Regions from separate parts of the Homo sapiens genome. Here regions 2 and 3 are each linked to region 1. The links come from fine-mapping of genetic effects on gene expression. A gene starts in region 1. Each other region holds a variant in brackets. All regions are shown on one strand. Distances are from middle to middle.

Region 1 (4,000 bases):
CTTCATAAAACCAAGTTCAACATCAGATTCTCCAGTATCTCCTACAGTCCAGCTACTCAACATGTGGTCTGGGACCAGCAGTATCTGTATCACCTGGGACCCCACCCCAGCTAGACCTAGAGAGTCAGAATCTGTAACTTACCAAGATCCCCAGGAGATTAGTGTCCACATTAAAGTTTGAGAAGCACTGTCCTAAATACAAGCAGCACTGGCTTGATCAGAAGCACTGTCCTAAATACAAGCAGCACTGTCTGACCAGTGGCACAATCATAGCTCGCTGCAGCCTTGAACTTCTGGGCTCAAGCAATTCTCCCACCTCAACCTCCCAGGTACCTGGGACTACAAGCATGAGCCACCTCGCCCAACTAGAATTTGCACAAAGCAGGAACTCAACAAATATTTTGAGACTCGGGGCCCTGGGAATCCCAGGAGATTCACAGTTTTGCCATTACATCCTTCTTTACACCCCCCGCTTTGAACTCCTTTCCTTTGGGGCCTCTTGGCTTTTTGCGCCCTCAAAAGGCAGATATGGCCAGGTGCCGTTGGCTCACACCTGTAATCCCAGCATTTTGGAAGGCCGAGGTGGGGAATCACTTGAGGTCAGGAGTTCGAGACCAGCCTAGCCAACACGGTGAAACTCCATCTCTACTAAAAATACAAAAAATTAACCAGGTGTGGTGGCGCACGCTTGTAATCCCAGCTACTAGGGAGGCTGAGCTGGGAGCATTGCTTGAACCCGGGAGGTGGAGGTTGCTGTAAGCTGAAATCGTGCCACTGTACTCCAGCGACGGAGTGAGACTCCGTCTCAAAAAAAAAAAAAAAAAAAAAAAGGCAGACATGAACCTAGGAGTGCGGAGACACTGAGGCAGTGGGGGAAAGGGGGTGGGGTAAAGTGAGGTGAGACAGCTGCTTTCCCAGCAGAGCCAAGAGCAAATGTGTTGGTGTTGGCTTCAGGCCTACATTTATGGTGAGGAACTGGCTTTATTTCTTTCCTTTTCTTTTTTCTTTTTCTTTTTTTTTTTTTTTTGAGACGGAGTCTCACTCTGTCGCCCTGGCTGGAGTGCAGTCGCGCAATCTCAGCTCAATGCAACCTCTGCCTCCTGGGTTCAAGCGATTCTCCTGCCTCAGCCTCCCGAGTAGCTGGGACTACAGGTGCCCGCCACCACACCCGACTAATTTTTTTGTATTTTTGGTAGAGACGGGGTTTCACCGTGTTAGCCAGGATGGTCTCGATCTCCTGACCTCGTGATCCTCCCGTTTCGGCCTCCCAAAGTGCTGGGATTACAGGCGTGAGCCACCGCGCCCAGCCGGAACTGGCTTTATTTCTAAGACAAAAATGCCTAGCACTTGAGCATCTGAGCCTCAAGAGGATAAGGAGTTTGTGATAGACAACACTGGGACTGTTTCTAGACTTGATTTATTGACTTGTCTGTTTCCATTCTGTTACTAATCTGATTGACAATGAAGCCCGGGATGTGGCTGGAAGGGATTTCTGCGTGCGTGCGCATGCTATCGTCAGGGCCATGTGGGCCCGTTTGGAGCAGGTGCTCCCGTGGGTGGGGGATGTTTGAGCGAGGGCTGTTTGCGTGTGAGAAGGGCGTGTGTGAAAACGACACGGGAGAAGTGGGCGTCTCTAGGGAGTTGTTTGTATGTGATGTGAGATGTGTTTGCCTGGATCGGGAAGTAACGTAGGTTCGGGTATGTGCAGTGCGTACGGTTGGATGGGAGGAGGTTGTGGGGCTCCCAAGGTAGCACGGGAGGAGGAGGCTTACAGACACATCTTACAGAACCTAGCCCCTTTTCTTGCCCGCCTAGATTTTCCTCCTAGATTATAGTTTCCCAGTTGCGAGATCCTGGGAGAGGGAAGAGGAGAGGCGTAAGGCTCCCTAGAGTCAGGAGTCTGGGGGCTCCCCTCTTTGCGTCTCGCACGAGCTGGGAGCTGGGGAAAAGAACAGATGGGGATGGATGCGCTCCCCACAGGGGACCGCGTGGCGACACGTAAAGGATTCAACCTCAGTCCAGTAGTCGCATCCTCTGCCCCAGGGCTGCCCACTTCACTTCTTGCCTGTGCATACCGGCTGGAAGCCCGCGTACACTCTTCCGAGCTACGGGAGGAGGAAGACCCTGTTAGGGAGCGGAGCCCCGCCTCTCCCTTGTTACTGAAGCGCCCCGCCCCCTCCCCGCCCGGCGGAGCCCCGCCCCCCTCCCCACCCCCGCCCCCGCCCCCCACCCGCCGCTGCGCTCCCCTCGCTCAGTCTGGCTGGCCCCATGTTACTGAGCGGAGCTCCTCCGGCTGGCTCCCGCCCGGGGCCGCGAACGCAGGGGAGCGCTGGGGGCGGCCCGGGGGGGTCCCGCCGGGGCGCCGGGGGTGCGGGAGCCGGCCCAGGAGGGGGCGGCAGCGGCGGAGTAGCCAAGTGGCTCCGGGAGCACCTGGGCTTCCGCGGGGGGGGCGGCGGCGGAGGGGGCAGCAAGCCGGCGCCCCCCGAGCCCGACTACCGCCCCCCTGCGCCCTCTCCGGCCGCGCCCCCCGCGCCGCCCCCGGACATCCTGGCCGCCTACAGGCTGCAGCGGGAGCGCGACTTCGAAGACCCCTACTCCGGGGGGTCGTCCGGCTCCGCCGCCCTCGCCACCCCTGTCGCCCCCGGACCCACGCCGCCCCCGCGCCACGGCTCTCCCCCACACCGCCTTATTCGGGTCGAGACCCCGGGGCCCCCGGCGCCGCCTGCTGATGAGCGGATCTCCGGACCCCCCGCCAGCAGCGATAGGGTGAGTGCCGCGCCGGGCCGGGATGGCCAGGAGGGAAGGCGGTCAGGGGTCTGGAGGCTGCGAGAGGGACAAAGGTGGCCTGGCCCGGGCCCCTCGGTGTCTCAGCTTCTGGCAGACGCGAGCCCCTGACCCCGGGGTTCCGAGCCTTCACCCACCTTTGTTCAGATTCTCAACCGACTAATCTGAGACGGAAGCCCCAAACTCTGCCCCTCTGCCCTATCCTTTGTAATGGCCCCAGAACTGGTGACCCTCCCCCTCCCGGGCTGGCTCTCCACTTCGTAGCCCCCTCTAGCCTGATCCATGAGCCTTTTGCTAACGGGAATTGAGGCGCACCTCCCAACCCCCACTGGTTGATGGCCTTTCTGCCCCTCTGGAAGCAGCGGCTCAGTGCCCTTTGATCTCTGACCCTTCCCCCTGGGCATAGCCAGCACAAAGCTCTTCCCTCCTGTTGCCTCTTTGCTTCCTCCTCCTCTTCCTCCTCCTGTTTCTCCAGCCTAAGCATCCTTGCAGGTGCTGAAGCCCCAGAAAGGAGGTGAAGACGGGTTTCTCCTTGCGGACACAGCACGAGCTGGCCTTTGCCCTATAGGCTGTTGTTCTCAGGAGGCGAAGACAGGCAGCTTACAGCTCTTGCCAAGGGGGCTTCGTGGGGTCCAGGCCCACTCCTCCCTCCTTCCCTCGTCCTCTCAGGTATGAGGATAGTCAGTGCTCAGGACCTGTTGCCCACATGGGGCTAAGCAGCTGAGCCCATTCCTCCTCTCCTCCTGGCCTCCCTCTCCCCCTGGTCCATTCTGAGGGAGGCTGGAGCTTTTCCTGGGTCTGCAGGCACCAGGATAGGGAGGAGAACAGGAAATCCACCATGCCTCAGGGCCCTGCCCTGATTCGGGTTGGCCTTATCCCTCCCTGGCAGAGTGAGAGCTGAAAGCCATCCCAGGCCCCTAAATTCTGTGATGATGACTCTGTGGGCTGCCTTGGCTCTGCTGTCCTTCTTCACTCACCCCGAGAGCTCAGTTCTGGGGCCTGCCCCCTTCTCCTCAGCAGAGAAGAACATTTTTATTTGATTGGAGTGCAAAGTTGCTTTCCGAATCCGTTGGCTCCAGGATTGAGGCTTTTTAGCTGAGAGAGCGCCGTTCCGCCAGATTTCCTGGATGAGAGAGATCTGTCAGGGTCAGAGCAGAAGCCTCAGGAATGCAAATTATTTTTCCCCTAGTTTTTGCCATGGGGCATGGCTGCCCAT
Region 2 (4,347 bases), 280 kb after region 1:
AGTTACTTAAGCTGTCTGTGCCTCAGTTTCCTGGTAAATGGGGATCTTAATGCCAAAATTATAGGGAAATTGTGAGGATTAAGCAAGGTAATACATGTAAAGTGCCTAGGACCGTACCTGATACTTAGTAAGTGCTCAATAAAAAAGCTATGTAGCTTCATTATTATTAGCATATTCGGGTTCCTGTCACAAAGTAAGTGATAAATGATCATCAAACTAGTACTTTGAAAACTCAAATTGGGGCCAGGCATGGTGGTCTCAGCACTTTAGAGGCCAAGGCAGGAGGATCTCTGGAGGCTAGGAGTTCAAGATCAGCCTGGGCAACATAGCAAGAACCCAGTCTTTACTTAAAAAATTAAGTTCAATAAAACACTCAAAGCTGGGCACAGTGGCTCACACCTGAAATCCCAGCACTTTGGGAGGCCAAGGTGGGTGGATTACTTGAGGTCAGGAGTTTGACAGCAGCCTGGCCAACATGGTGAAACCCCGTCTCTGCAAAAAATACAAAAATTAGCTGGGCATGGTGGCGTGTGCCTGTAGTCCCAGCTACTTGGGAGGCTGAGGCAGGAGAATCGCTTGAACCCAGGAGGCAGAGGTTGCAGTGAGCCAAGATCGCACCACTGCACTCCGGCCTGGGCAATAGAGGGAGACTCTATCTAGTGTGGGCAAACTAGATAGAGTTGGGGAGCTTTTTACCTCCTAAGACACAAAGAGTTCATGACAGCTCCATTTTTACCCTAACAGGTTGGAAAAGATAGAAATCTATGAATAGCTGAAGGCAGAATGTGTTTATCCAATACAATAACATAGTTGAAACCTTGAACAAAAGCTTTTTAAAAGTTTGCTTAACGGAAACAATGTTACTTGGAGTAGTTTTTCAGTTTTTTAATTTTTTCAGTAGATGGCATCAATATAATATCCTTCATTTCTTCCCAAGGAAAATTTTTCTCTCTTTACGGGAGATACATGGTAGAAATGTTTATTATTTACCCTAGTATATCAACAATTATCTTAAAGGTAAGTGGACTAAATGCTTCAATTAAATCACCACTTTGGGCAGCTAGAGTTTTAAAATAATTATATGCCATTTATAAAAGACATTTAAAATTTAAGGATGTTAAAATGTTGAAAGTAAAACAATGGAAGATAGGGGCTGGACGTGGTGGTTCACGCCTGTAATCTTGGCATTTTGGGAAGCCGAGGCGGGAGGATTGCTTGATCCCAGGAGTTTGAGACAGGCCTGGGCAACATAGGGAGACCCCATTTCTACAAAATTTTTTTTAAAGTAGCTATGTGTGGTGGCGTGTACCTGTAGTCCCAGCTACCCAGGAAGTTGAAGTGGGAGGAATGCTTTGAGCTGGGATGTTGAGGCTGCAGGGAGCCATGTTTGTGCCACTGCACTCCAGCCTGGGCAACAGAGCAAGACCATCTAAAAAAAAAGAAAAAAGGAAGAAAGAAATTGAAAAAGAAAAAAATCACCAAAAAACCCCAAAGAAAATAGAAGTTAGGAAATAATATGGAATTGTAGTAGAGATAGAAGAAATTAATAAAATAGGAAACAAACTTACAGTAGAAATGATCAACAAATCAAGAAGTTGAGTTTTGAAGACTAAAAGAAATTTATAAATTTCTGATAGGACTGGCAAAGAAAAAGAAAGAAGGCACAGATAATATCAAAAATGAAAAGAGGAATACATCTCAGATTCTAGAGACATTTAAAAAAATTAGAGGAAATTATGACCAAATTAATGTCAATAAATTTGAACATTTACATGAACTATTTAAATTTCTAGGAAATATATCTTACTAAAACTGCCATGAAAAAGAGAAAATCTGAGCAGTCCTTTAACTGGGAAAAATAGTGATTTTATAATATTAAAAATCTTCCTACAGCCCCACTAATTACTAGATTTTGTCATCTTAGTGAGCTATGTAACTTGTTTCCGCATCTGAGAAATGAAGATAGTAACAATGCCATAGTAATATTGAAGGATTAAATGAGAAAATGCCTGTAAAAGTGCATTGCACAGGGCCTAGCATTTGCCACATGATCAATGCATGCTTGCCTTTATTAGTTTCCTTTACAGCTATGGTGTATCACTGAGTGCAGAATGTGTGTGTTCTTCAGGCTCCCTTGTGTGCAGGCTCTGAAAGGTAAAGGGGCCTGCTCTTTGTTCTGAAGTAAAACTGCTCAGGGCATTAGGTGGATCTGAAATTTAAAAATAAAATTGAAAGTAAATCAATCTTTTCCTTAAATCAGATTGTCTCTGCTTTTGTTTTACACACCTGCCTCAATATCAGTCTTGGAATTTTTTTCCCACTGTTGTGGGTGCAATTTTTGTGATATGTACAGAACCACCTACCCTACTCCAGGCCTTGGATCCTGACCTTAGTGGCTTGGAAAAGGCTGTCACTTAGAATTTACACTCCAGTTCTCACTATCACTGTCTCCATTCTTCTTCCATCTCCCCACCCTGGGGTGATTTCCCAGCCTGCTATTTGTTTTCCCGTTC[G/A]TATGGTTCCCCTAATCTCCAGAGCATGTAGTACTCACTAGCCAGACTATTGCCCATGTCTTCTGTGTTACATAAAGTTATTTCCAGCGTATCTGATCTCTTCTCATCCTTTCTCTGTCACTCGGGGGCTTTGCTCAACCTGATTGTGTCACAGTCTTTAGGAGATTCCCTCTTTCTTGATCAGAGAGCCCTTCATTCCTCCATTCCTTGCCTCTGCAATCATGAGGGTGTGACACAGATGAAGGTGTGGCACAGATCTCATCTCTTCCTGGAATTCCCAATCTCAAGAGCTTTCCTTCATGGTGTTGCTGACTTAAACGAGGGTGCCTGCCAACTGTGGGGCCCTCACCCCTCTTAAAGAGGTTTGTTTCCTTGTCACAGTGTTGTGATTTATTTCACTTTGCTCTTATCTTTAAAATCGGGTTCATTTCCTTGTCTTAGTTAGGCTCCTCACCATACCTACTCTGTATTGTGTTTCTTCCTCATTTGTCAGATTTTTTTTTTTTTTTTTTTTTTTTTGAGATGGAGTCTTGCTCTGTCACCAGGCTGAAGTGCAATGGTGCGATCTTGGCTCACCACAACCTCCACCTCCTGGGTTCAAGCAATTCTCCTGCCTCAGGCTCCTGAGTAGGTGGGACTATAGGTGTGCGCCATCATGCCTGGATAATTTTTGTATTTTTAGTAGAGACGGGTTTCACCATGTTGGCCAGGATCGTCTCGGTCTCTTGACTTTGTGATCCACCCGCCTCAGCCTCCCAAAGTGCTGGGATTACAGGTGCGAGCCACCACACGCAGCCCATTTGTTAGGTTTTTAAAAGCTGTTTCTTTCCCTCTCCCCATTCCCATCTGTCCAAATCCTGTCCTTCTTTCAGGCATCATCTCAAAGGATATCTCTGAATGAAACTTCTTTGGCAACCTCCTCTTCTTGCCCCCTCTCCCCACAGGACTCTAGTCCACTTAGAGCACTTAGGTTACTCAACCTAAAGTTATAATTACTTGTGTATACCTGCCAAAGGCCCCTACTACATTGTTAGGTACTTGAAGGCAAGGATTATTTCTTACTAATCTTTGCAGCTCCCACAGCACCCAGCACAGTGCCTGGAATATGGGAGTTACTCAGGTACTATTTGATGAATTGAATTCATACATGTAAGGATCCAGAAGATAAAGGAAAATATTTCCTTCAGTTTCCAGACTGGGACCCAACAGTGCCCTGTTTCACTGTTTATTAGGAAGCAGGTTGTATGGACCTGGAGGTGCCAGATAAAACGAAGGCTTCCATAATACACATTCATCAACCCTGCTAGGGTTGTCTCATTCATTCATTTACGCATTCATTCAACAAACATTTGTTGATGACAGAGTGCTAAACTCACAGCTTTTTTTTCTTTTCCTGTAAAGTGAGATAACAGGGAGTGGGACCCTTCCATTATAAATATAATCTGGTTGGAGAGTTGGAAATATAAACAACTGACTGTAAGGCAAAGTGAAGTAGGTGCTAGAATAACATATAGGTCAAATTCTCTAAGAGCACTAGTCCTTGGTTTCTGCAGGGCAGAAAAGAGGGATATTGGAAAAAATCAGGATGATTCAGAAGAAGGGTAACTTTGTTTTCCCTGGTGGACTCATAGCATCACTATGATAACAACTAGGCCCCGAAAGGGGGAAATCCTGTCATTTCCAGCAACAACATGGATGAGTCTGGAGGTCATTATGCTAAGTGAAATAAGCCAGGCACAGAAATATAAATACCACATGATCTCACTTATATGTGGATTCTAATAAAGTTGAACTCATAGAAGTAGAAAGTAGAGCAATGGTTAACAGAAGCTTG
Region 3 (4,273 bases), 97 kb before region 1:
ATACCAGAAGGTGTGTTGATTTGCTCTAATAAAGATATTATAGGAACTGCAACTGAGGCAATGACTCAGTTAAGTTTATGGTAGTCTGTTACCATCCTCCATTATTTATCTGTGCTTTTGAAAATAATTGAATTGAATGGGAATCTGTGCCCAGCACACTTCCGCTGCACTGTCTATCTAACTGAATGGGAATGTGACTGGAAGACGAACTCTGGACACTTTTACGTCTTTTTTTTTTTTTGACAGGGTCTCATTCTGTTGTCCAGGCTGGGGTTCAGTGGCATAATCATGGCTTACTGCAGCCTCAACCTCCTGGGCTCAAGTGATCCTTCCACCTCAGCCTCCCAAGTAGCTGGGACCACAGGTGCGTGCCATCACTCCTGATTAATTTTTTAATTTTTGTAGAGATGAGGTCTCCTTATGTTGTCCAAGTTGGTCTTGAACCCCTGGGATCAAGCAGTCCTCCCACCTTGGCCTCCCAAAGTGCTAGGATTACAGCCATGAGCCCACTTTGAGTCTTTGATGTTGGTGCTAATCTCTGCAATTCCTCTTGGGATATGGTAATACTTCTGATTTAGTATCTTAACCAGAGGCAGGAGGTGGCTTGGGGGCTTCTATTTGGCCTTTCCTACCATAAAGAAGTTTATTTCACAGGTCAGAAAACCAAAGTGACAGTTTTCCCAGATTCTAAGTGTATCTGTCTCAATTATACTTTCAGAAACCAGGGACAAAAACTTAAGGCCAGTTCGCAAAACCTCTGGATACATTGTGATATAATCTTGAGCCAGGGGGTCTATTCATCACCTGGACTTAGGAAACCACCAATCTAACTACAGGGCATGATAACATTTCAGGTCCCCAATACCAGCTCTCAGAACATCTAGGTATTCTTCTTTACCCAGTGTAGTTGTCTTTGAAAAATGTCACTTGTCCTTTTAGAGAGGGATTCTAAAAATACTGATGTATATACTTATGGTTGTCTTTGAAAAATGTCACTTGTCCTTTTAGAGAGGGATTCTAAAAATACTGATGTATATACTTATGGTAGTTTTGGAGTTTCCTTCTCAAGTGGACTCAGCCTCCCCTTCAATCAATGGGCTATGGGTTTCTAAACTGACTTAGACTTGGAAACTAGCTGAGGGAAACCAATGTTCCATTGTGATGGCTGATGTCAGCCTTCTGCTTACCAATTCATGCATTTATTTTATAAATTAAGTAATATCCTACATGGCTGTCCATCTGTCTCAACCCTAGGAATACTCAAATCTACTAATTGTTGCCAAAAATATTTATGGGTCAAGGCACCTTGATTGTCGTACTGGCATTGCTGCCCATTATGGTAATTGTATTTACCTTTGCTCTGTTAGTTGAGTGTTATTTGGCTTCTGGTATTCTGGAATTCCATCAACCCTTTTGATACTAGAGATCCGTGTTCCATGGCAGTATCCCCCACTCTTGGCCTTGACAGGGCTCCTTTCACCAATGTATTTCTTATTCCTTAGTATAAGGAAGTTCCCTGGGCTCTTGGAGTATATAGACAGGTGGCGGGTTAGCAGGTCTTAATACATAGTAAATATATTCTAACGTTCTCATTTTCCTATGACTTTTGATCCCTTCTCCAGTACAATGCCAAGATTATTTCTGGTGTGTCCAAGCTTCAAGGAAACAGCACAACAAACTATTTATAGTGACCTCAAGTGCTCTTGCCAAAACACTGGATAACCACTCATGAATGTATGCCCTCAGGTAATGAATTCTCTCTTATAAAACCTTATTTTATGCACTCACTCTCTCTCTCTCCCCAGTCTTACATTTTCAAGATCTACTCCCACCTACATTACCCTGATTCTGTTGACAAAGAGTCAAACTCTGTAAAATATTTTAAGAGGTTTATTCTGAGCCAAATATGAGTGATCATGGCCTGTGACACAGCCCTCAGGAGGTCCTAAGAACACGTACCCAAGGTGGTTGGGGTACAGCTTGGTTTTATATATTTTTAGGGGGGCATGATACATCAATCAAATACATTTAAGAAATATATTGGGCTGGGCATGGTGGCTCATGCCTGTAATCCCAACACTATGGGAGGCTGAGGCGGGCAGAACACCTGAGGTCAGGAGTTTGAGACCAGCCTGACCAACATGGCAAAACCCCAGCTCTACTAAATATACAAAAATTAGCCAGGCTTGGTGGCGTGCACCTGTAATCCCAGCTACTTGGGAGGCTGAGGCAGGAGAATCGCTTGAACCCAGGAGGCTGAGGCTGCAGTGAGCTGTGATCACGCCACTGCACTCCAGCCTGGGTGACAGAGCAAAACTCCATCTCAAAAAAAAAAAAAAAA[G/A]AAAGAAAGAAAATAAAATAAAATACATTGGTTTGGTTCAGAATGGTGGGACAACTCAAACCGGGGGCTTCAGGGTATAGGTAGATTTAAACATTTTCTGGTTGACAATTGGTTGAGTTTATCTGAAGACCTGGGATTAATGGAAAGGAATGTTCAGGTTAAGAAAGAGGATTATGGAGAGACCAAGTTTTATTGTGCAGATAGCAGACTTCAGAGAGAGAGCAGGTTATAAAATGTTTCTTATCAGACCTAAAAGGGTGTCTGGCTCTTAGTTGATTATCTCCTGGATCTGGAAAGAAAGGAAAGAAAACAAAGGGGGAAGGGGATTCTCTACAGGATATGTATTTTTCCCACAAGAGACTTTGTAGGGCAATTTCAAGGTATAGCAAGGAAATATATTTTGGGGTTAAATATTTCTTCCTTGTCTCAATGTTATGCCAGAGTGATTGAAAAGTAAGTCACGATATATAGGGTCAAACAAAACCCATCTGATGAGAATTTATGGTTTGTAGGACATGACTCCCTAGACCCCTTAGGTAGGAATTTGGGCAGATAAAAAAATTAGAGTTTAGTCCTCAGTTCTTACATATTCTCCAGGTCCTACAGTTCCTTTGGAATGGAGGCTAACTCCTTCTGGAGCAGGACCTGTACTTCCCTGCTCAGGCTGTGCTGAGCTCTGGCACAGATTACCAGACTGGAGGCAAAAAAGGCAGAGAATGGAGGCTTATCTTGGGAAGAACGAAAGTTATTCTGCAATGACCTATTTTGGATGGGCAAGGGGAGGCTGTTTTCCTTAGTCAAGAGAAAAGGGTTTTGCTGACAGCATTATAAATAAATAAATAAGAAAGAAAAGGGACTGCTTCTGCTGGCCAGGAAGATTTAGGGACAATTAGGAGCTCCAGATTTTGAGGCTCATCCACTCACATATTTTATTTATTTATTTATTTATTTTTGAGATAGCGTCTTGCTCTGTCACCCAGGCTGGAATGCAGTGGCATGATCATGGCTCACTGCAGCCCCAACCTCCCGGCTTCAAGCGATCCTCCTGCCTCAGCCTCCCAAGCAGCTGGGACCACACCTGGCTATTTTTTTTTTTAATTTTTTTGTACAGACGGGGTCCACTATGTTGCCCAGGCTGGCCCTGAACTTGTAGGCTCAAGCAATCCTCCTGCCTCTGCCTCCCAAAGTGCTGAGATTACAGGCGTGAGCCACGGTGCCCGGCCAGGGAATCTTGTTAACATGCATATTCTGATTCAGTGGGTCTGGGGCGAGGCCTGAGACTCTGCATGTCTAGCAGGTGATGCTGATGCCTTGGGTTCACTGGTCACTCTGCCACTCACATATTTCTTATTCAGGTCTTAACGCCTCACATTTTTCTTTTCTGGAAAATACCTCCACATGGGAAAGCTGTTGAAGCTATGCATTCAATACCTTTAGCAGCTTTGCCATTCTGGATCCTGAACCTAATTTCTTTTCTTTTCTTTTTATTTATTGTTTTTTTTTTTGAGTCAGAGTTTCCCTCCTGTAGCCCAGGCTGGGGTGCAATGGCACAATCTTGGCTCACTGCAATCTCTGTCTCCCGGTTCAGGTGATTCTCCTGCCTCAGCCTCCCCAACAGCTGGGATTACAGGTGTGCACCATCATGTTCAGCTAGTTTTGTATTTTTAGTAGAGACAGGGTTTTGCCATGTTGGCCAGGTTGCTCTTAAACTCCTGACCTCAGGTGATCCACCCACCTCGACCTCCCAAAGTGCTGGGATTACAGGTGTGAGCCACTGCACCCAGCCCTGAACCTAATTTTTTTAAATTTTTTAAAATTATACTTTAAGTTCTAGGGTACATGTGCACAATGTGCAGGTTTGTTACATATGCTTACATGTGCCATGTTGGTGTGCTGAACCCATTAACTCATCATTTACATTAGGTATATCTC

Evidence for each region.
Region 2: its variant is fine-mapped to the expression of SHF in sigmoid colon (GTEx, PIP 0.98).
Region 3: its variant is fine-mapped to the expression of SHF in whole blood (TOPMed, PIP above 0.99).

Annotation. Positions count from the first base shown.
Region 1 is chr15:45,186,220-45,190,219 of GRCh38, reverse strand. SHF (Src homology 2 domain containing F) reads left to right here and starts at 2,254. Exons shown (of 7, transcript NM_001394037.1): 1 at 2,254-2,766. The coding sequence starts at 2,269. It overlaps LOC124903481 (a long non-coding RNA gene), which reads right to left. Exons shown (of 2, transcript XR_007064608.1): 1 at 3,762-4,000; 2 at 1,402-2,105. RefSeq lists a silencer at 2,310-2,359 and an enhancer at 3,274-3,826.
Region 2 is chr15:44,903,308-44,907,654 of GRCh38, reverse strand. No RefSeq gene overlaps it. Among named protein-coding and RNA genes, the nearest start is that of TERB2, 51 kb to the left of the region's middle. The variant G/A (reference allele first, on the strand shown) is at 2,514.
Region 3 is chr15:45,283,058-45,287,330 of GRCh38, reverse strand. No RefSeq gene overlaps it. Among named protein-coding and RNA genes, the nearest start is that of SLC28A2-AS1, 6.0 kb to the right of the region's middle. The variant G/A (reference allele first, on the strand shown) is at 2,342.